Linked DNA regions of Homo sapiens. The protein of the gene in region 3 interacts with the protein of the main gene of each other region in a pairwise test. Each region holds a gene or a part of one and is shown on either strand. Other genes may lie near its edges.

Region 1 (7,868 bases), on a different chromosome or scaffold from region 3:
CATGTTCTGCCAAAGTTCTCAAAAACTTCCAACCCTAAAAAGCTGCAAAAATACTCCTAGATCCTGAACTGTTCATTCTACACAATTAGAACCAAAGAGGCATTTCAGCACAATTATTTCAGGGTAAGCATTAGAAACTCTCAAAAGAAGCTAAAATACACTGATTGATAGAAGGAATTCGTTTCGAAACTAGAAACACAGAAAAAAACAAACTTGGGTTCTACAATGTGGAGAAAGCCCAAACCACCCTCATGATCTGTGAAATAAACTATTTTCCCTTAATGATGATTGGACTCATTTTTCCATGTCAGTTCAATGGCTACCAGAAATTACAACGAAACACATTTTTCCTCTCGTCATTACGTGTATATATCTATGTTGTATGTGTGTGTTCTGTTTACTGGAGTCCACCGCCAAGGTTTTTAAATGTGCTTAAGAGCAAGTTGCTGATACAATGGGTGGGCAGGGAAAGGGTCAGTGCAGTGGTTTTGTGTAATGCCGGGCACATTAATGGCACTCACCTAATACTCTATTTATTTTACCTGTGGCTTTCAGGGTTAGAAAGAAAAAAACAAAAAAGAGGTTAAGAGTTTTTCAAGAACAAAATATAAACCAAAAATAGGAAATTAAGGCAAAATTACCTGGATCATTCAGGCCACCTTAGTTTCTTTTCCTCAATTTCTGACATTATAAACCCCCCTCTCTTCACGGTCTTAACTGTTTTGTACACGACATCTCTCTTGGACAACTTGGGTTCTGAAATCTTCCTACGTGTCCCCTTACTTTTTACATAACAAGTGTTTTGCTAAAAAGACCGATACTTTCTAGAGCCACATGCCATTCCTACCTGAAAAGGAACGCTGTCAGATAACAGGACAAGTAAGAGGCAGCAACTGTACTGCAATGGCCCGCGATTATACAGCGATTATTATACACAACCTCACAAGGACGGAGGAGCGTCCAGGAACAGGGCAGGCAATCCCTTGGTCCTGGCAGCTGTTAAGAGGGGTCAAGCAGAAAAATGTGACTTTTCTATACTTAATTTTAATGTGGGTATGATTTTTAGGACATTGAACCTCTTTTGCTACCTACCAAAAGGAAAAAAAAAAGTTTTCTCAACTGGGTGAATAAAGAAAGATGGTTTCATATAATATTCTAACCCTGAGAAGCAAACAGATTGCACATCTAGCTGAAACAGAAAGATTTCTGAAGCGATGATTATCTTGATATGGTAAGTGAATTAGTTAAATATGGTAATTCCTAAAAAAGCACACTTGTCATTATTTTTAAATTTTTTTAAGTGGTAGGGAAAATAAATAGCAAAGCAGCCAGTAAAGTTCAAGAAAAAAAATCAGAACACACCATTCAACTCTCCATCGCTTTGAAAAAAGAAATGCCAGTAGCATTCCTACAATTGTAATTAGAAAACATGCAAGTAAACAACTCTTCAAATAGTCTTTTATAATAAAATAGAAAATGTCCTCGGGTGAAAAAGCAATTTTTGGCTGACTGCAATTCATTTAGGTTTTCACTACCATACAACTGGGTGACGAGTAAAATCTCCTATTTATTTTGCATTGTTTGGCATAGTCTCGCTCCTCTACCTTCTCCATCTAAATAGTTACCATTTTCCAAGTGGACAATGTGCAGAGAAGTTGTATGTATTAATGAATTCCTCTGCAATTTTGGTTTCACTATCAGAATTGAAGTTTGCACACAACATAGTGTCTCAACAATGATCTCAACATTCTAACGCTTTAGAATCCGTTTACCTTCTGTGTTCACCTATATCAGGATCCAATACCTGTGTGAATCTTTTCGGGTCATATTTAGACGTGCACTTTCCTGCATCTACACACACTCTCAAGTTCCTCTAGAATGTTTAAGAACTCAACTGTGTGGGATGTTAAGAAGTACGCCAGAAATAATTTCTTGGACTCCAGATAACGTACCTGCAAAAAGAGTCATTTGGTAGGATACCACAAATATCCTACTGAATTCTGAAACGTTTGTTCCTGAGTCCGACTCCCCTTCTGACCACATCTACTCAATTTTGTTTCCACCGAAGGAACGCTCCGCAGTCACAAAACTTTCATCATGATTACGGACGCACCACCTAAAATGCATGCTCAGAAGTCAAAGTCCTATGAAAATACCCTCGATGAGCATTTGGTGAATTGCTGCGTTTTTAACCCTCTTACTCTGCTCCCCTCAGCTGCACGGCCCCTAAAATCACAAGCGTTCACCGCCCAGGCTCGGGGTCTTTGACTCAGCAGAGAAGAATGTGGCTGATGAGTTATCTATTAATCCAAAAAACCTCGGCTAGAAAGATATTTCACCAAGAACTTTTAACACGGAAAGGGAGGGGGCAGGGAATAGAGGTATCTTTTAACGAGAACTTTCCCCCGAGTTTCTTCCTTAAACTGCTCCCCCCCCGACCCTGAATCCATACACAATTTCCAGCCCCGGCCCTAAGTCCTGACCCTCCGAGTCCCGATTATCTGAGGTCACCCAGGAGTCAGCTCTCGGTTCCACTTATAAATCCCGGGCAAACAAAGCTGAGCATTATACTTACAAAAGTCTCCGAAAAGTCCTTGGAGTTACGCAATTTGGGGCCCGCAGACGCGCGTGGACACAAAAACACACGCTCCCGAGATCCACCCTCCCCGGGCCACACTGTGGGGCTGCGTCCGGGGCACGGGCCATGCCTGAACCTTCTTCCACCGCCGCGCCCCGGGCCCGCGCCCCGCCGGCCGCCCGCACTGGGTCCCGCGTCGCCCCCGCCACCACACCGAGCCGCCCAGTACCTCCTCCTCCTGAAGGTTGGCCTCGCTCGGGGTGTTCTCCTTCTCGGCTTTGCCGCCGTTGTTCATCTTCCCGGTCCTTCCTCGCCGGGCCGGGCAGGGCTGGGGCGCGGGGCTGGGCGAGGGCGCGCTAGCCCACTGGAGCCTTCCCCGGGCGCCGGGGCTCCCTCGGGCGGGCGCCGCGGGCTGTGGGGCTGGAGCTGGAGCCGGGGCAGTGGCTGTCGGGCTCGGGTTGGGCTGGGGCTCCCGCGGCGAGTCTGCGACGGCGGCGGCGGGCGACTCAGGAAGTGCAAGGGAGAGACGGGGCAGGGCGCGGGCCGGGAGCGGGGCACCGAGACAATCGGGCCCCGGGAGGGCGACCTGGAGAGGGAGGGCGGGAGCCAGGGGAGGAAGGAAGAAGGAAGGAAGGAAGGAAGCAAAGGATGGGGCGAGGACGCGCGTCCCAGGAGTAAGCGCGGAGAGTTGGGGCTGGGGGCTGCAGCCGCTGGAAGGAGGGGACGGGGGTGCCTAGAGAGGAGGAGGAGGAGGAAGAGGAGGAGGAGGAGCGGGGCGGAGGAGCGCGGGCCGCGGCTGGGACGCTGGGACCCGAGAGCCGCTGAGTACGCGCTCCAGGCAGGCTCTGGGAAGTCCGGGATGGAAGCAGCTCCCTTTCTCTCGCCTTCCTCCCTCCCCTCTCCCCTCCCTCCTCTCCGCGCCTCTCCTCCTCCCTCCGCCCTCCCTGGACGTGGGCTGCCGGCTGCAGCCCGGAGGGACGGGGCGCGGGACGGAGCCCCCCGCGGGAGGAGGGGCCGGCGGCCGGATGGCGCGCGCCGGGGAGGGGCAGCGGGCCGCGGGCGGAAGCGGCGACCCCAGCCCCCGACTCAGCGGCTGGTCGGAGGGCGAGGGCCCGGGAGGCCGAGGGCAGGGAGGTCGGGTCCCGCCGTTCCCTTGGCCCCCGGGGGCCCCGGCGTCTGCGCGCCCCGGGACTTCGGGGACCCTGCCCCGCCGGGGCCTGGACCGGGACCTGGGATGTGTGCGACTTTTAGTTTGCCGGCTTTTACCGAGGGATTTGCACCCCTGGCCCTAAGCCCACCCTTCCCGAGCCAGACCCGGTTCTTCCTCTGCTGCTTGAATGACAGCATGAGAACTCGAGGGACACCGGGGACAGCCCACTCCGGGCCGGCTTTTTCAGGACAGGGCTTCAAACCCATCTCCAGCGCGGGTCCTGCGACGCGCCCGGAGCCTTCCCCGCTTCGCTTCCTGAGCGTCCCGCGGCCCCCCGACTCCTCTCCCAACTCTCACCAGACTGTTCTGGGATTGTTTACCTGGCCTCTCCCTCACCCTTCAGAAAGCTCCTTCCTGGAAGAAAAAAAAAAATCCTGCCCTATTTATCTTTTTAATCCCACGGCTATTTAAACGGGCTAAGGGGTATATAGCAGGCACTCAATAAATATTTGTTGGCAAAGTGAATATTCCTTATTGCAGGCAGAGCTGGGGGTCCGTACGGAGGAACTTCAGAGGCTGGAAGCACGCTTGAAAAAGAAAGGGGGCCTGGGCTTTGCACCAGCTTCAGGATTGCGTACTTGTTTCCTCATCCGTGAAATGGGAGCAGCTGAATGTGTCTCCTCGAGTTTTCGAGGTGATTATAGGTTGATAGAGCTATATACAGCACCCAGCATTTATTCTTGCTTCGTTTAGGTTTACAATACATGGAAGCTAACATTATTATTAAGAAAACTTCTATTTTTCCAGGGCCTTAGAAAGCGTTTCCAATACTCGATCATTTAAGCTTATGGTTTTTTGGTTTTTTTTTTTTTTAGAAAAATGAGGGTCTCACTTTGTTGCTCAGGCTGAGCTCGAGCTCCTGGCCTCAAGTGATCCTCCTGCTTTTGGCCTCCCAAACTGATGGGATTACAACGTGGAGCCACCGTGTTAAACTCTTAGATTTGACTGCTACAAAGGTATAAATGTGGAACTCCATATATCAGTGGGTTCTGCCCCACTTCTTCCTCCCAGGAATTCTCCATCCCAGCCTGCTGCTCCTGTCTTGCACCGGTAACAGTTTCCAACTACAGTATTTGCTTAACTGTTTCTCCCCACCCCCACCAGACATTCTTTATACTTGGTTTAAGTGCTGCTGGGGATAGGGCGGGGGTGGCTGTGGGAGTTGCAGATAAGGACCCTCCCTTTAGGGAGTTTAAAGTGGTATGGTGGCTCACACTTGGAATCTCAGCACTTAAGGAGATAGAGGAAAGAGGATTGCTTGAGCCCAGGAGTTCAAGACCTGCCTGGGCAACATAGTGAGACTCTGTTCTCCACAGAGGGGAAAAAAAGAAAAGACAAAAAAATAAAGTGGTATGGAGCCAAGATACTCTCAGAATCCTCTTTCCGATTATAGAAAGCAAGGAAAATATTTGCTTTAAGGGCATTATGAGGAGAAAAACAGTAGTGATACTTGGATTTACATATTGGATTTATCTTGGGGGTTTGGAGATTTTGAAACAGGAAGATTTCCATAAGGAAAACATGTTTTTTTAATTGCTGTCATAATGTGATTTCTCTCTAAGGGGAACAAACATGTATCCTGGATGAAAATAAACCAACTCTTGAAACTGCAACCCAAGACATTCAGAAGAGATAAGGCTACAGTGAATGTGGAAACTTTGCACGTGTTTGGATGTATTGATTGCCTTAACTGGCAGCTCTTTGCACTGCCAGCTTCCCTCAATTACATGAGGAACCACGAGGGGGCAATGTCTTCCCGAGCAATAATAGCTGAGTGGTGGTCTTAGGACCCCGTGGTGGCCCATGATGCTAGCACTGTGTCTTTGGCCATTCTTGCCTGTCATGGAGCATACTCCACAGAAGGGCATGGTCTTCTTGGATCCCGGCATGGGCCCAACAAAAATGACAATGTAGTCAATAGTTCCACTCAGACCTCACTTAGGAGCAGGTGAACTATGTTGTGTGATATCAGGATGCCCGGAGAACCTCTCCTATCCCCACCCAGGGAAGCATGGCTTAATTCCAAATAAAGAATCTGATTTCTTTGTCTTTAAGCCAAGCCAGGACTTTGTCCATTGTTAAAAGTCAAAAATCTCTGGGATAAGAAACAAAAATAAGTTCCAGGCGGGGCACGGTGGCTCATGCCTGTAATCCCAGCACTTTGGGAGGCCGAGGTGAGCCCAACACCTGATGTCAGGAGTTCAAGACCAGCCTGGCTAACATGGTGAAACACCGTTTCTACTAAAAATACAAAAAATTAGCTGGGTGTGGTGGCGCACGCCTATAATAGCAGCTACTTGGGAGGCTGAGGCAGGAGAATTGCTTGAACCCGGGAGGCAGAGGTTGCAGTTAGCCGAGATTGCACCATTGCACTCCAGCTTGGGCAACAAGAGTGAAACTCTGTCACAAAAAAAAATAAGTTCCAGGAGAGGATCCTTGTCTGGCTTATTCACTGTTGTATTCCCAGCATCTAGACAGTGCCCAACACATAGGAGGCGCTCAGTTATTTTTTAATAAATGAGCATTTTAAGTCTGATGGGTTACTGATTCTCAGGCCTGAATGTTATTACTGGATTTTTCCAAGATCCAGCAGGAAGGACTAAATCAGTGGAGATGTCTTAGAACAGATAGTCACAGCAATGGCATTAGGCAGGGTCTTGGCAGTGTTTTTTTTTGTTTTGTTTTTTGTTTTCTGAGAGTCTCGCTCTGTGGCCCAGGTGACATTGTTTAAGCAAATGTCTCACCCAGGCGAGAACTGTTCAAGCAATTCTCCTGCCTCAGCTTCCCCAGTAGCTGGGACTACAGGTGCACACAACCACACCTGGCTAATGTTTTTGTATTTTTAGTAGAGACAGGGTTTCCTCATGTTGGCCAGGCTGGTTGGTATTGAACTCCCAAACTCAGGTGATCCACCCACCTCAGCCTCCCAAAATGCTGGGATTACAGGCATGAGCCACCGGCCTGGCAGTGGTCTTTAGTCATGATTTTGCAGGGGGGACCCTAGATAGAGACCTTGTGCAGAATGGAACAACTGATAAGGTTTCAAACAGTAAAAGATAAAATCCCACCATTGAGGCCGGGCACAGTGCCTCATGCCTGTAATCCTAGCACTTTGGGAGGCCAAGGCGGGCAGATCACCTGAGGTCAGGAGTTTGAGACCAGCCTGGCATGGTGAAACCCCATTTTTGAAAATACAAAAATTAGCCAGGCGTGGTGGTGGGTGCCTGTAGTCCCAGCTACTCGGGAGGCTGAGGCAGGAGAATCGCTTGAACCCGGGAGGCAGAGATTGCTGTGAACCAGATCACACCACTGTACTCCAGCCTGGGCGACAGGGAGACTCCATCTCAAAAAAAAAAAAAAATCACACCATTGAATTTGACATATCAGACAATAAAATCGACACTGATGCAGGGATGGCTATACTATATAGTCAGTGGTGAGAGTGACATTCAGGGTGTTTTCAGAAAAACATATGGGGTTGGGATAATATGTCAAGAAAAGGGAGATTTCCTGCTTTTTATCCTTTTCATGAAGAGTAGTTTAGAGTTATTTGAAAGAGCAATAATGTATTACCAATAAAACTCAAGGAAAATCTGTAAACAGACTTTTGCTATTTATAAAACTTTGTGATTGAAGGCAAAGAGTTTGAATTTGTGTGGGGGAGGAAAATGTACCTTCAATCAGGGTATAAATGATAATTACAGCTTGTTTATGACTTTAAAGAAAGATTCCAAAGTAATATCTCCTCAGTAGCAATAGTTCTCAGGCATCCTGAGAATTATAAGACCACAAAGGGATTTTTTTTTTGAGACGGAATTTCGCTGTAACCAAGGGATTTTAAATCCTGTAATAGTTGTGCTGAAGACCAGAAAAGTCCGCTTTCTCCCCAGCCTAACACTCTACCTACTGTATTGCCTGACCTTCGAGGTTACCTTGAAAGGGTAATATTGTATACACCTGTAGTTTTTTACTACTCACTGCTGTTTCTCTGGCAGTGTTCATTTCGAGGCTTGCCTTAAGAAATCCAAACCTATAATTATGTCTTAAATGTTTGCCTTTGGGAACTGCAGACATTAAAGG
Region 2 (7,999 bases), on a different chromosome or scaffold from region 3:
TTAGTCAGAAATTAGCTATTAGAGTCATAGAGAAGATTAGTGTTTGATAAACAGAATGGAAAAGGCTTGTCAAGCAGCAAAGAGAAAGGGCTGAAGTAAAGAAGAGAAAATTTAAATTAAAAACATAAAGCTTGAACTTTCTTTCTTTCATCTCCAAAGGTGGGAGGAGGAAGTTACAGTTCTTATAGCTAGAGGAAGTTACAGTTCTTATAGCTAAGTAGCTGAAACGCAGCATACTACTTAAAAACAATCTAAGAATACAGACATTTTTAGGGACTCTGAATAAGCAAAGTCACTAACCTCATTAATTCTTCCACTTTATCATCTACATCTAGGTCCTCTTCTGAGGCTTCAAAACTGTATGACCTCTGACCCATGCTGTTTGCATGGTAGCGAGTTGGTGACATCTTTCCATTGGATGTAGATAATCGCTCATTATTCTCCCTCCCATTTTGATTGGTAGTGCAAGGCTGTGGGGAAGTATCATAACTGTTGCTAGGTGACGGGGACATTCCCGAATGCTGCGTCTGTGTGGAAGCTGTAGCTGTAGAGGAAGATGCTGGGACATTGTTAGTACTATTCCCATATGAACTTCCTCCATAGCTGGACCTTCTTCCAAACTTGTCACTATGCTCTTGATCAAGACGGTCCAAAGTTTCCAAGGCATGGAGAATTTCATGTTTAGTCATTCCAGTACGCCGAAGTCGCTGAAGCAGATCTATCTGCTCTATGGTAAATCTGGGTTCATCTGTATAATGAGACATGGTTTCCAGCAAACTAAAAAAAAAGAGATAAAAAGAAGTCTCTTTATTGACAGTATCTACCAAAGCACATATTATACAGAATGCTCAGAAGATGCAATATTTCTACATAAGCTTCTGTATTGAAAATGAAGGTATGTCCCATGCTAGAATGATTGTGCCATGGCAAATGGATTGGTACAGATACTAAATGTATTAGTAGGTGAACATAGGTGTAACATAAAACCTAATTTCATATGGCATACAATTTACATTTTCCTCAATTTTGGTAAATATCAGAACCAAAATTTTAGTTATGTAAATAATACCAGAACAATAGATTAGGTACATGGAGTGCAATAAGCCCAGGCTACGTGATAACTCAGAAGTGTTTTGCCCATCTCAAGTGTATTACTCTACATTAGAGTATTAATGGAAAATTACTGAAAAAAATAGTTTGTATTATATTATTTACCAAATATTAGCTAAACAGACCTAGGAATTCTCTACAACCTCATTTAGTGAGAACAAATGATTTGCTAAGCTAAGTCCAAGCAAATGCTAATAACCAGCAAAAATACTTAAGTGGAAAACAGAGGTACATTAAAAAAAAAAATAAGCACCATTTCATTCACTACTTAGCAATTTCCTAAGTTTTCCATCTCTGGTAATGCATTCTCTCTTAATAGCTACCCTGAGAAATAGATCTTTCATGGTTGTAGCCAAACAATGCTATTCATTTTTCTTAGGAAATTACTTTTACATGTTTCCTTTAACTAGCACAAGATACTACAGCACATCAGAAAATGTTTTCTTAGGGTGAGTAACAATATTAAGGGAGTAGTCAAATACTATAAAAATTCTCACTGCTTGAATCCCTTTGTTGTTGTTGTTGTTGTTGTTTTGGATACAGAGTTTTGCTCTTGTCAACCAGGCTGGAGTGCAGTGGCGCAGTCTTGGCTCACTGCAACCTCCACCTCCTGGGTGCAAGCGATTCTCCTGCCTCAACCTCCTGAGTAGCTGGGATTACAGGCACCTGCCACCAAGCCTGGCTACTTTTATATTTTTAGTAGAGATGGGGTTTCAACATGTTGGCCAGGCTGATCTCAAACTCCTGACCTCAGGTGATTCGCCCGCCTCGGCCTCCCAAAGTGCTGGGATTACAGGTGTGAGCCACCATGCTCGGCCTTGAATTCCTTTCTTATAAGACCTGAGTTTTCCATTCAAGATTTTTTAAAGTTGTAATCTCTTCTATTTTGATATTTATTGTTCTAGTGCCAAATATAATGCATGGCATGCAGTAGGCTCTCAATAAGTGTTTGCAGATGGAAACAGATGTCAAGAAATTTCTTCATCTTTCTCAAACAAACATCTGCTCTGGGCCAGTGTCCTATAGCTATTGAAGGTCTCACTGTTTCTTTGTCCTTCTACATGAAAACTTTATTAACAGTCACTTCTAGGCAGGAACTGGGTACGAATTTCACATAACATAATCTCATCCAATTCTCACAGCAACTCCCCATGGTAGATGTTCTTTATTCATTTCATTTTATGTTGATGGATTGATTGTTGAGGAAACTAAAGCTCAGTGTAGTTTTGTACTTCACAAAAAATCTGAGTAAACAGTAGGAAAAAGATTTAAGCCTAGATCTTATTGACTCCAAAAGCACACATCATTCTCCTTTACAATACATTGCAGGACTTAACTGGAAACATATGATTTGGCACACAGGCTATTCTACTCCTTTAAGTCTCATTTAAAGCCATTTAGATAAAACTATTCTAATTACTGATGAACCTAGGGGTCCTAGTAATAGTTTTCTACATTTAAAATCCTTGCTCCATCTAGAATTTTTATTGACTTAACAAGTATAAAAAATTGGGGCTTTATTTCATCCCAAATGGACAGCTAGATGTCGTATGTTTTTACTGAATATCTGTCTTCTCCTCCGATGTGAAATGCTGCCTTTATCATATACACAATTTCCATATGAATCTGCATTACCTTTGGATAGTCTATTCCATTTCACTGATTGTTTTATCTTTCAAATCCTTTTAAAAATAAGTAGGGAAAAATCTAGAACTGTAGATGAAATCTTCCTGGTTTTTAAAACAAGCTCATAAAAATAAAACAAAACCAAACACACACATTCTGTGGACCTAAACATGTTGCAGGCCATTTGTGCCCATGGGCCACAGTATCTGCTCTACACCTACAAATGTTAGGGTCTGATTTCTTCCAATACTCACTTGTAACAAGTTAGCCATGATTTTAAAAAGACCTATTTTCATGATTATTATATTCTTTCTTGATGGCCTAAGTTCCCCCACAATATTTTGTAATGAAAAAAATTAAACATAAACATTATTATTTTCCCTTGAAAATGAAGTAGACCTGTTTGTTGCTATTTTCAGTCTTCATGTTATCAAAGTATTTCATAAAGTGATCTTACTTTAGATGACTTCAATAACTGTTTTATTATATGGACAAAAATCCCCAATCATAGTATTTTCCTATAGTATTCATATCAGAGCAGTTAGTTATCTATATACAGTTCTTCAAACCATTCCTTGTATGGAGCAGCACTCTGTATTAGCATAAAGCAAAAGTAAATTGTATGAATTTCACTTATTACTGAAAAGTATCCATCCTAACACTTGAATTAGAATTGTCAAAACTAAAGATTTCACAGCATATGAAACAATCTAATATTTTGTGTCATTTCAGATTCATTGACTATTAGAACCACTTTTATTCCAAGTCATAAAAGGAGAAACAATAGGCCACCTATTTACTTTGTCTGCTTAGAACACCTCATTCTTTCCAAGCACATGTTCTTGGGCTATCACTCGTAATACCCCACCTTCTGGCCAGTGGGGTGAGCACAGAAGAAAGCCAAACCTTGCTCTCCCCATAATTTTCTAGTCAGACGAGGGGAAAGATGAACAGTCACCATAACTGTGTTCAGTTGCAGGAAGATATTAGTCTGGTAAATTCCTCATTATATGGAAGCAGCTAGTTCATGGGAGGAAGAAGCAGACATACCAAGAAACGTGGAACAGAGCGATGGAGAAAGCTCTGCAGCACTCACATCCCTTGTTCCAATAATCCCTAAGCCCCTGATATATCCCTGCTCTTCTTGCTGTTTTGTTTCATCAGAGAATACATTTCCCTTTATGTATCACCTTGTTCAAATTAGATGTCTGTGCCCTGCACTGAGAGTTTCCTAATGCAAATATAACCTAAAGCAAAATGATCCACAATTGCTAGAATGATCATTCATATGATCACTACAAAGCAAAGTGATTAAGAGCATAACAAACAGGATCAAAGCATGCATGTGACACTGAAGATACAATATTTTACTGAGAAAACGCTGAGTCTAGAAGCTCTCCTGGATATTGAGAATAATGTTCCAATGTGTATTAATATAAACAAAGGCATATACTCCGGCATTTCACAATTTTATTTCTCATAATTTACCTAGTTTAAGCATATAATCACGAATTTATGGCAGTAAATGACCTACAAAGGTCATCTAAGTCCATGATACCAGCAATTCTTTTATAACAGAAAAAGATAACATGTAAGAATTGAATTAATTTTCTTATGCACAAGGATTGTTCAGAGGATAAGGAACATCTTTCACTTTAAATTACTAATCTGAATGCAGACTCAGGCCAACAATAATTGAAAATGATGTGAGAAGAATTTCACCACTGTAATAACAGACAGTGTTTAAGGCATAAAAGAACAATTAAATTCAGGAATTATGGCTCAGTTCATAAACTGATATTCTAAGAAAATATCATACCATAAGACCATAATAATAACTTTTCACAATACATTTTATCCTGACTTGAATATGTACCTAAACCCTTCTTGGATAAGGCATGAGGTCTAGAATATACTTTCATAAGCTAAATTCTACAAACATGTAGAGCAAAGAAGATTAAAGCATTCACAAATAATTAATCTTGAAATCACAGAGGTAAAAAGGACATTACTATCTTACTTGTAAAGCACCAACAGTAAAATTTTATTGGATAACAGCTTTTTCTTCAGCTCAATTCTGCTGTCTTTATTTTTATTATCTAGAATGACTAGGCAAAATAGGTTAGTTTTGTTTTGCATACATGATATTTACTGCATGCTAATTTAACACACTCTAGGGTCAATCACAATATTTTTATCAGAGAGAGAACTCTCCATCCTCTCAGGAATGTCACCTCATGTCAAACTGCATATGTGAGTTACTGTCACAACTACTGGACTTCAAAATACATATACACTCAAGAGCTTAACAGACACTTTGGGAGCTTAGGCTGTGGCAGGGCTACTCTCTGTCAGCAGCTTCTCCAAAACCAGAGAGCTCAGGCTGCAACAGGCCTCAAAGCTTTTATACCTTGCAGGCCAGCATTTTCTAGCACTGAGGGGCCTTCCTTGTGGTCTCAGATCTCAGCTATGGTGGTCAAGCCAGCCTCTCCCAAGAACTGCTCATGTAAAGGTACACCTCCACCTTTAGCCTTCACTTGAACACAGAGGCCTCCTTTCATCATAATTGAGCAAAGACACTTTAATAGCTTTGGAACACATTCATAATGTGGTTAATGTACCTCATCTATTGAGTGTATTCCCTGTGAAGTCTGTCTATGTTACTCTCCCCATCTTTAAGTACTGTGAACCCAAGAAAAAATTCTCTTTGTATGGCAATAAACACTGTGATTCATGAAATCATACTTTGATCATCTTATTTCTACCATATGTGACAAAAATCCAAGTACAAACATGCACATTTATAAAGGGAGATATAAGTTAGGTGTGGAATGAGAAAACTGGAGATCACTTAGACAAAAATCATTCATTTAAGTAACATTTATTGAATGCCTACTATGTAACAGATCCTGTGCAAGGCACAGAGGACACAACAAGGAACAAATCAGGCAAAAATTCATGGCTTCATGATGCTTACATTCATTTCAGTAACTATTAGACATCTTACTATTTTCAATAGCCATTAGACGTCTTAACTCTCCTGAATGCTTAGCCATCTATCTCAGAAACTTCTAGGCTTTGAGCAGTTAAAAATAATAAGTAATTTTATATTCAATTTAAAATTAATGTCAAAATTCAAAGTTGAAAATAGAAATGGTAACAGAGAAGGCTGATAGATTGAAAATAGCCATTAGCAAATAAATTTTTTTAAAAAGTGGGGAGGGAAACTAAGGCCCAAAGAGGTGAAGTGCCTTCCCAAGGATATAGCTACTTAGCAGAAAGTCGGGCTACAGTTCACATCTTCTAGGTCTGTTCCAGAAACTTTTCACTATATCATAGAATCTACTGGGGTGGGGGTGGGGGAACTATAATGAAAAGCCTAAATAATAAGGAAAATCTCTCTTAATGTTTACTTACTGTATTATAGAACTGTCAACCAAAACGGAAGGAATTTAAGCAAAGTGGAGACTCCATCAAATTTTAGAAAATACTTATGCTAAAGGCACTCTGCATTCGACTCTAAAGATGCACTTAATGAGCTAATAGATACTCTGTCTTCTCTAATATCTGAAATTCCCGGAATACTTTTATTCAAAGGCCTATTTAATATGAACTGGTGGTTATAGTTCATATCCTAGCACAAAAACACTCTCAACACAATACCACTATCTCAATTTGTATTTTCTGCCTGACTCCAAAGAAAGGCTAGCACATCAGCTAATAGGCTTAACTACATCATCATGCCCCCAGCAGGTAAAGGAAAATGGTTAAGGTGCTAGGAGTTTTTACACAAAAGGCAACATGAAGATGTATGCTTCCAGTAGTCTGCTTGTCACAAGGAATCTAATATTAGCTCTCTTGAACTGTTAGTCATCTATCTTGGATGCTTCTAAGCTTTAAGCAGTTAAAAATAATAATTAATTTTATATTCAATTTAAAATTAATGTTAAAATTCAAAGTTGAAAACAGAAATGGTAAGAGAAGGCTGATAGATTTAAAAATTCATTTCTCACCACATGATCATGACACTTATTCACCTTAATGTCAAATAGGTATAACATTTGATTCATTTTCTAAAAAAGCTTTTCAACTCTACAAACGTCTGTTGTCAAATCTGGATCATAATCATAGTGACATCTTAACTTTACTAAAATGATTGTGAAGATAAAAATCAAAAAGGACTTGATACTTACACCACTGGAAAGGAACTAAGCATACTTTACATGAGGCGGATCAATATCCTTTCCAGAGATGATCTGCGTTATCTACCATTCTGTAGAACAAAGATAGAAAATTGAGAAACATTTATGTTAATCAAGTGCTGAATAAAAATTTTAATTATGTAACTGATGGACAGCAAGAGTTAACACTAGCTAATCATGTTAAATATTATATCTTCTGATTTGCATTCTACTGCTTTATTCACCATACACTTTGATCCCTTTCAATTCAGACACAGATCTTAACAAAAAATGGTATCTACTATTCATTGTTTAGAAGCTAAAGATCATGAAGACAACTTATTAGCTGGTTAAAACCATAGTTATAGAGGCACTGATTTCCATTAACTCTAAGATTATAAATTAGACAAAAGTTAAAAATGTTGATGTCAAAAACTCTCACATTGAAATACATATTCAGTACTGAATTATATTAAGCATGGCCAAAGTGTCCAACAATGACTAATGATATATGCAAAATGTACAAGGTAAAGTTAGAAACCTTTCATATTTGTATATTCTAAACTGTAGCACTAATGAAGTTCCTGTTGTAGATAATTTTCTTGTTGACTTAAAAACAGGCCAGGCGTGGTGGCTCATGCCTGTAATCCCAGCACTTTAGGAGGCTGAGGCGGGTGGATCACCTGAAGTCAGGAGTTCGAGACCAGCCTGACCAACATGGCGAAACCCCAACTGTACTAAAAATACAAAATTAGCCGGGGGTGGTGGCACATGCCTGTAATCCCAGCTACTTGGGAAACTGAGGCAGAAGAATCACTTGAACCTGGGAGGCGGCGGTTGCAGTGAACCGAGATCGCACCATCACACTCTAGCCTGGGCCACAAACACATTTTTCACTACCTGCTCAAATTCAGTTAAAATATATGAGGCACCTGCTTGCCCTGGCATAGACACAAGAACTAAATATGAGTAAGATATGGTCCCAACAGTAGAGGAGCTTAGGAGTTCATTAAATGGCGGGAGGTGGGGAGAATAGAGACTAGGGACAAAAATTATAGACACACCCCTCTCAAATAAAAAAT
Region 3 (7,999 bases):
TGTGTTATTGGGATTGTGGGCTCAGAGTCCATTACTAAAGAACATTCTCAGTTGATGAAATATCACTTAATCTCTCCTCTGTAACAAAAACCAATGGTTTTAAATTGAATAGTGATATGTTTGTTCAAGATTTGGCCCTATTGTCAGATCCCATCAGGGCCATAGTAAATAGTAGAACAGAATTTTAGCCATGGTGTGTAATTTACAAACTTCTTGACTTTTGTTTTCAAAGATAATACTGATGGAATTAACGTTGTAACATGTAGTAGTGGCTATAAAAACCATATTCTGCTTAAGAATTCTTTATGAAATATCCATATTTGAAGTTTTTGATGAACTGAATCTTAGGTTAAAATGATTCTTTAATCCAATTGTTATTTCCTGTTACAGATTGTATGCAGGCCCAGAGGTAGATATATGGAGCAGTGGGGTTATTCTCTATGCTTTATTATGTGGAACCCTTCCATTTGATGATGACCATGTGCCAACTCTTTTTAAGAAGATATGTGATGGGATCTTCTATACCCCTCAATATTTAAATCCTTCTGTGATTAGCCTTTTGAAACATATGCTGCAGGTGGATCCCATGAAGAGGGCCACAATCAAAGATATCAGGTAATAAAGCAGTTTGGAAGTTATCAGATCTGATAGTATCCATGATAAAAGTTATGTGAAAAAAAAAAAGTTGCAGAACAGAATATACAGTGTAATCCTGTTTTTATGTGAAAAAAATAGAGTGTATAGACACATTTATTTTATTTTGTTATTAGAAATACATAGTAAACTGGTTACCTTAGGGAAGTAAGATTCGTAAGAGGGAGGGCTTTCACTTTTTACTTACACATCTTTGTTTTGAAATTTTTACAGTGAACATCATATTACTTTTTAAATTAACAAAAAAGCTAATGAAAGATTGGTGCTGTGGCTCACACCTGTAATTCCAGCACTTTGGGAAGCTGAGGAAAGAGGATCATGTGAGCTCAGGAGTTTGAGACCAGCCTGGGTAACATAGCGAGGCCCCATATATATGTATATCTTTTATTTTTATTTATTTATTTTTTTTGAGACAAGGTTTTGCTCTGTCACCCAGCCTGGAGTGCAGTGGTGTGATCATAGCTCACTGTAGCCAGTAACTCCTGGGTCAAGTGATCCTCCCACTTTAGCCTCCCTAGTAGTTGAGACTACAGGCATCCACCATCATGCCTGGCTGTTTTTTGTTGTTATTGTTTTGCTTTTTGTTTTTGTTTGTAGTGACAGGTCTTGCTATTTTTGCCCAGGCTGGTCTTGAACTCCTGGCCTCAAGTGATCCTTGTGCCTTTCCCTCCCAGTGTTGGGATTACAGGTGTGAGCCAGTATGCCTGGCGTTAGGATTAATACTTTTCAGTAGTAAATTTGTGGGTGGCTATTTTATTTCTTATCTCATGAATTATTGTATTTTTTTTCTTTTTTTAATCCCAAGGAATGAGATTTAATTGACATGTTTTTCCTGGTAGTATACATTGAATTACATGCAAAATTCCTGTTTTGTAGGTAAAAGTCAGTATAACCAGTTTCATCTGGTTCAACCTAATAGTTTAAATTAGACAAAAATGACGATGACAAATTTTCTTCTCAAATTAGAGTGAGCCATTTCTGATGAAGACTTAAACAATTTTATTGCAAGCCTTGTTTCTTTTTTTTCCCCCCTGTGGAAATTTTGGTCCTTTTGGTCTTCTAATGGCTAGACTGCACATTTATCTGAGAAGGAAGAAAGAAATCAGATATGGATCTAGGAATAGTAAATATGAAAGCATTAGTATAATGAAGAAGAAGGAAAGATTATATGTGGAACTTGAAGCTTGATTACTTTCCACTTACTACACGTTTTAGACTAGCTAAAAAAGAGACCATGAATGGCACGGCATGATTTTATCACCAAAGGGAAAGGACAAATCATTCTCTAAAATTTATATTTTAAGATATCTAGGTAAGAAATGTTTTTGTTTGTATTTTACCTATTTTCTTCCAATTAAAATATAATACATGACAATTGAAAAAACTTAGAAAAACACCAACAATAGAGAAGAGAATAAAAAATTATCTTTAATCCCATGACCCAGAAGATAACCATTGTTCTTTTCTTGTTTTTTTTTTCGTCTCTGGATTTTATTTAGTTTTAGCAAAGTGACATAGTTCAGGTCAAACATATTCTTAAATATACGAAGTTAGGGAATTAGAATAGGAAATCATTCAGGGCATGGCCTTTCCAGTCACACAGAACTGGGTCATAATCCTGGTTCTGTCACTTACTGTCTTTGTGACCTTGAGCATGTTCCTTGATTTTTTTTTTAACCTCAATTCCTTCATTTAAAACAAAGAGATATTATCTTCATATAATTGTTTCGATGATGAGGGGAGATAGTGTATATGAAGTGTTTAGCATAAAACTTAGCATATAGTAAGTACTCAGTAGTTGTCTACTATTTTTCTTGTTGTTACATTATCTTCACTTAACATTATATCAAAAGAGTATTATAATGAAGCTACCTAATATGTTCTCTTTCTAAGCTGGAAATAAGCTGTTCTTTTCATTGTTTGTCGCTGTCATTTGTCCCATAACTTTTTTCCCCCCATTGCTGTGTCAATACATTCTCCCTCTTAAAACTGGAGGGAAATTGGAGCATTTCCCTCAACATACACAATGAAGTGCGAGCTAGAAGAGGAAAATTTCAGTGCAAAAAGTGACAATAATACAGTATGAATATAAATATAAATTAAGTCATATTCTAAATTCCCTAAACTGTTACTTTCAGTCTCAGCTCTATTCAAAGTCCTTCTCCTGATCCTGCCATTTTTCTCTCAGGGAACATGAATGGTTTAAACAGGACCTTCCAAAATATCTCTTTCCTGAGGATCCATCATATAGTTCAACCATGATTGATGATGAAGCCTTAAAAGAAGTATGTGAAAAGTTTGAGTGCTCAGAAGAGGAAGTTCTCAGCTGTCTTTACAACAGAAATCACCAGGATCCTTTGGCAGTTGCCTACCATCTCATAATAGATAACAGGAGAATAATGAATGAAGCCAAAGATTTCTATTTGGCGACAAGCCCACCTGATTCTTTTCTTGATGATCATCACCTGACTCGGCCCCATCCTGAAAGAGTACCATTCTTGGTTGCTGAAACACCAAGGGCACGCCATACCCTTGATGAATTAAATCCACAGAAATCCAAACACCAAGGTGTAAGGAAAGCAAAATGGCATTTAGGAATTAGAAGTCAAAGTCGACCAAATGATATTATGGCAGAAGTATGTAGAGCAATCAAACAATTGGATTATGAATGGAAGGTAAGAAAGAAATAACATTTTGATTATTAGCATATTTGGCAAACCCATAGTCTATAAAATGTTTTATAGAAGAATTACTTTTGACTTGGTTTTTGTTATACCATGTGCTAGGTTGTAAACCCATATTATTTGCGTGTACGAAGGAAGAATCCTGTGACAAGCACTTACTCCAAAATGAGTCTACAGTTATACCAAGTGGATAGTAGAACTTATCTACTGGATTTCCGTAGTATTGATGGTATGTACATCACACAAAACAACATAGATTAGACCTTGTTACTAACTTGGTATTTTACGCCTTGATTCTTTTGAGGCTTCTTGACTTGTTCCTAGTAATTCAACTGCAAAGGAATAAAAAATGTGATTTCTTGTGCCTTTGCAATATTAACATTTATGAATCTTATTTTTCTTGTAATCTTATAGCATATTGTCCTTTTAAGATTATCATCTTGTAAAATCCTTAAAGCCAGGTGTAGTCTGATCCTAAGGTGATAGTTTTCTGCTGCATTTGTTTTTTTGGTGTAGTTCATTTTGATAAGAGACAATGTTTTATTTAGAAATAAATATTGACTCTTCTGTAAGCTTTTATTTATTATTAAATAAGTTTTCAGTTAAGAATGAAGTTATGGCAATTCTTCATTGGCCAATTCAATTGCATTAAGCTACGCTGTTGAGTGCAGGTGTGGTGGCTTATGCCTGTAAACAGCCCAGCACTTTGGGAGGCTGAGGTGGGAGGATGGCTTGAGCCCAGGAATTTGAGACCAGCCTTAGCAACATACTGAGACTCTGTCTTTACAAAATATTAAAATATATATATATAGTATCACCTTTGCTTATGGAAGGTTGCATAGAATTATTAGATGAGGTTCACGTTTGAATTTTTTTCTTCTTTATAAACTCAAAGATAGTACACACATAGTAGCAGAAAGACACAGGTTTGAGCCATGATATGTTGGCCAAACCAGTTTGTCTGGTTATCTTTAGGTCCATATAGTACGTATCTGCTAACATATACTAATGCAGTCTGAAATACGGAATGAGTTTTATTTTTCTTGTATTTGGATCAAATTTGCAACCTTAGATTTACTAGTACTGGGGTATACCAATTGAATGCCCATTTTGTTTTTGTACTGTGTTCCCAACCTTAGTTTTTCTTCGATTTTTATTCATTGGAATTGTTGCTCTTTTATGAAATACTAAATGAAATATGAAGGGAAAGTGGAAAGTAAAAAGCACTGAGCTGAGACTTAGGAGAGTTGGGTTCTAGACTTACCTTTCTGTTCATTTGTTACCTTGGGCAAGTCATTTCTCTGGGTTTGTTTTCTTATCAATAAAGTGAGGGGCTGGATGAGATGGTTTCCAGTATACCCTCCAAATTTTAAGTGCATCGATTCTATGATTTTAATATAGAGGGATTACTTTTTATTGCTATAGAATAATATTTATTAATCCCTAGATTGTTGGTTTACTGGGCTCTTAACCTTGGATTGCAACTGATGAGTAGCTATACTGTACCCAACTTTGGTTAGCTATCTTGAGAATACATACTATATGTAAAAAAGATGAATAGTTTAATACAGGCTCATTGACTGTTTTAGAAGGTATTTAGAATAAGCGTGCTCTTGATAGCTGGCCAGCAGCCCCACTTAAAGAAGCAAATTCAATACTGTTACAAAAATTTTTGGGAGAAGGTCATAGACTATAATAAATTGAAATTCTTTTTACCCAGATGAAATTACAGAAGCCAAATCAGGGACTGCTACTCCACAGAGATCGGGATCAGTTAGCAACTATCGATCTTGCCAAAGGAGTGATTCAGATGCTGAGGCTCAAGGAAAATCCTCAGAAGTTTCTCTTACCTCATCTGTGACCTCACTTGACTCTTCTCCTGTTGACCTAACTCCAAGACCTGGAAGTCACACAATAGAATTTTTTGAGATGTGTGCAAATCTAATTAAAATTCTTGCACAATAAACAGAAAACTTTGCTTATTTCTTTTGCAGCAATAAGCATGCATAATAAGTCACAGCCAAATGCTTCCATTTGTAATCAAGTTATACATAATTATAACCGAGGGCTGGCGTTTTGGAATGCAATTTGCACAGGGATTGGAACATGATTTATAGTTAAAAGCCTAATATGCAGAAATGAATTAAGATCATTTTGTTGTTCATTGTGCAGTATGTATATAGCATAATATACACAGTGAATTATAGGTCTCAGGCTTACTTGATTTTTGGCTATTTTATATTTAGTGTACACAGGGCTTTGAAATATTAATTTACATAAAGGCCTTCATATATTATTACGTGTTATATATTACGTGTTATAAATTTATTCAATAAATATTTGCCTAGAATTCCCAAGACCTTTATAGGTGATTTTGTTTTCTGGGCTCCTTAACTTCATAAATAGCTAGTATCTTCCAGCAGTAGTAACAGTCTGGATAACTTCTTCCATATCCCTCCCTCTTTGTTTTTTTGAGACAGTGTCACTTTGTCACCCAGGCTGGAGTGCAATGGTGTGGTCTCGGCTCACTGCAACCTCCACCTCCCGGGTTCAAGTGATTCTCCCGCCTCAGCTTCCTGAGTAGCTGGAACTACAGGCGTGTGCCACCACACCCGGCTAATTTTTCGTATTTTTAGTGTAGACGGGGTTTCACTATGTTGCCCAGGCTGGTCTCGAACTCCTGACCGCGTGATCCACCACCTCAGCTTCCCAAAGTGGTGGGATTACAGGCGTGAGCCACCGCACCCGGCCTCCATATCCCCCTTTTAAAATTCTGTAGTGTATGGTAAGTCATATCAGATATCAGACCTAATTTAAATTTCATTTTAGCTTTACAAGTCCAAAAACACAGAATTTATATATTCAGATACTCTAGCACTAATTTTAGTCTTAAAATATTCCCACGATATTCTGTACACAAAATGTTCTTTTTGTTACAAGAGCTGAGTTGCATATACTGTAGATAAATCATATTATTTTTGCCAATTTCACAAATTCCTCTGGCCCATCATGTCAGTCATTATTGAGTATATGCACACATTGCTACTTATTTGATTATGTATCTTTTAAATTGATTCAGTGCATAGAAAACTATCTCTTACAAACTTTAAGTGCTCTGATATGACTTCCCCCCCAAATTTTATTATGAACATTTTTAAAAACAGAAAAATTGAAAAACTGTTTGGTAAGCACATGTATATCTACCATTTAGATTCAGCAGTTGTTAATGTTTTGTCATTTGTTTTCTCTATACCTATATATGTATAGATACAGCTAGTTATGCATATATATGCATATATGTGTTTGTTTGTGTATGTATATATGCTTTTTTCCCCCTGAACCATTTGGATGTTACAGACATACTTATCACCGTGAAAATACTTCAAGTATCTCCTACAGATAATGACATTCTCCTAAAAATCCGTAATACCATTGTAAAAGTAATAATTCCCCAATATCATCTAATCAAGCCATATTTAAATTTCTGAAGTTAACTCCAAATTTCTTTATAGCTGATTATTTCAAACTAGGATCCAATTAAAGTTTACATATGACACTTGGTTATAACTCTTTAGTTGGATATAACATTATTATTATTTTGATAAAATATGGAACAAATCAATTCTATTAATAAGTGGTCACATTTGTTTTGGGCTTAAATTACTTTTTAAAGATACTGGATTTTCCTAAGATTTCTGATTTACACTGATATTTTTTTTTGTCATTCTTAATTGCATCACACAATAGATGTAAATGAAGATGTAGTCACCTCAGATAAAATTGGTATCGTGTATGATAATATTGTATCATTTATATTTGCCTTATGTTAACTTTAAGAAATTGATTTTTTTGTATTAATCATTTTCCCATTGCAACAGAGCTATATTTTTTCTATTTTAAGAATCATATTTTAGGATTATTTTTGGCAAATACAGTGAGCACTTATGTAACCAGATGATAATGAACTCAAATGTCATGATAGCTTGCATAAATGGTGACTCTAGTAGATTTGACTCAAGCACTTCTAGAATCATGCACTGAATTCAAAAGAAAAATCTTGCTGCTTTTTGTCCAGGGCTTGTTCTATTCAACTTCTAATTTGAAAGCTGTACAAAGTAATAGAAGTTCCATTTAAATATGAGTTCAAAACTGTATTTACTTTTTATGTGGCCCTCTCTTTAGGGGATTCTAATTTTACTTAGGGTCTCTAAGTGCAGCATAATGTTCCTGATGTTAACAGAAGACTGTATTTTTAAAGTTACAAATTTGTATATGGAATTAAGTAATGGCGCTATATACGCTGTTGTGGGGAGGGGGGAAGAAAAGGAGGAACCAATTAAATAGGACCTTTTAAAAATTGTTAATTTTGTAAACTTTGCTTCTCTTATAAGTTATTGTGATTCATTTTAGTTACTGTGTTTTATTTTGAAAATATTTAAATATTGCACTTCTATAAATAGTATGATAAATGCACAGACAATTGCAGTAAATTCTTTTTTAAGCTAGGATATTTGAAATGACAACCTTTGGTTAAGTGTGTCAAGGTTGCAACAGAATTTTCACAATTTTTTTGTTGTTTGCAAATTGTTACTAATATTGAAGAGGTAAGGGAGGCAATGCAAATGATTTTTAATCTTTTTTTATTATCTTTTCAGCAGTTT

The links. The genes of interacting proteins can lie anywhere in the genome.
Region 1: the proteins of PRKAA1 (region 3) and RBPMS interact in binary tests that used the Homo sapiens proteins (3 or more experiments, as listed by UniProt).
Region 2: the proteins of PRKAA1 (region 3) and HMBOX1 interact in binary tests that used the Homo sapiens proteins (3 or more experiments, as listed by UniProt).

What each region holds. Positions count from the first base shown.
Region 1 is NC_000008.11:30,380,098-30,387,965, reverse strand, and holds the start of RBPMS (RNA-binding protein with multiple splicing), read right to left. Parts: upstream 3,426-7,868; 5' UTR 2,874-3,425; coding exon 2,808-2,873; exon of another isoform or gene 2,565-2,807; intron 1-2,564.
Region 2 is NC_000008.11:28,962,821-28,970,819, reverse strand, and holds part of HMBOX1 (homeobox-containing protein 1), read right to left. Parts: intron 7,010-7,999; 5' UTR 6,953-7,009; coding exon 6,930-6,952; intron 778-6,929; coding exon 301-777; intron 1-300. UniProt on the Homo sapiens protein: Binds directly to 5'-TTAGGG-3' repeats in telomeric DNA. Associates with the telomerase complex at sites of active telomere processing and positively regulates telomere elongation.
Region 3 is NC_000005.10:40,760,082-40,768,080, reverse strand, and holds part of PRKAA1 (5'-AMP-activated protein kinase catalytic subunit alpha-1), read left to right. Parts: intron 1-390; coding exon 391-615; intron 616-2,842; coding exon 2,843-3,329; intron 3,330-3,440; coding exon 3,441-3,567; intron 3,568-3,613; exon of another isoform or gene 3,614-5,058; coding exon 5,059-5,303; 3' UTR 5,304-7,999. UniProt on the Homo sapiens protein: Catalytic subunit of AMP-activated protein kinase (AMPK), an energy sensor protein kinase that plays a key role in regulating cellular energy metabolism.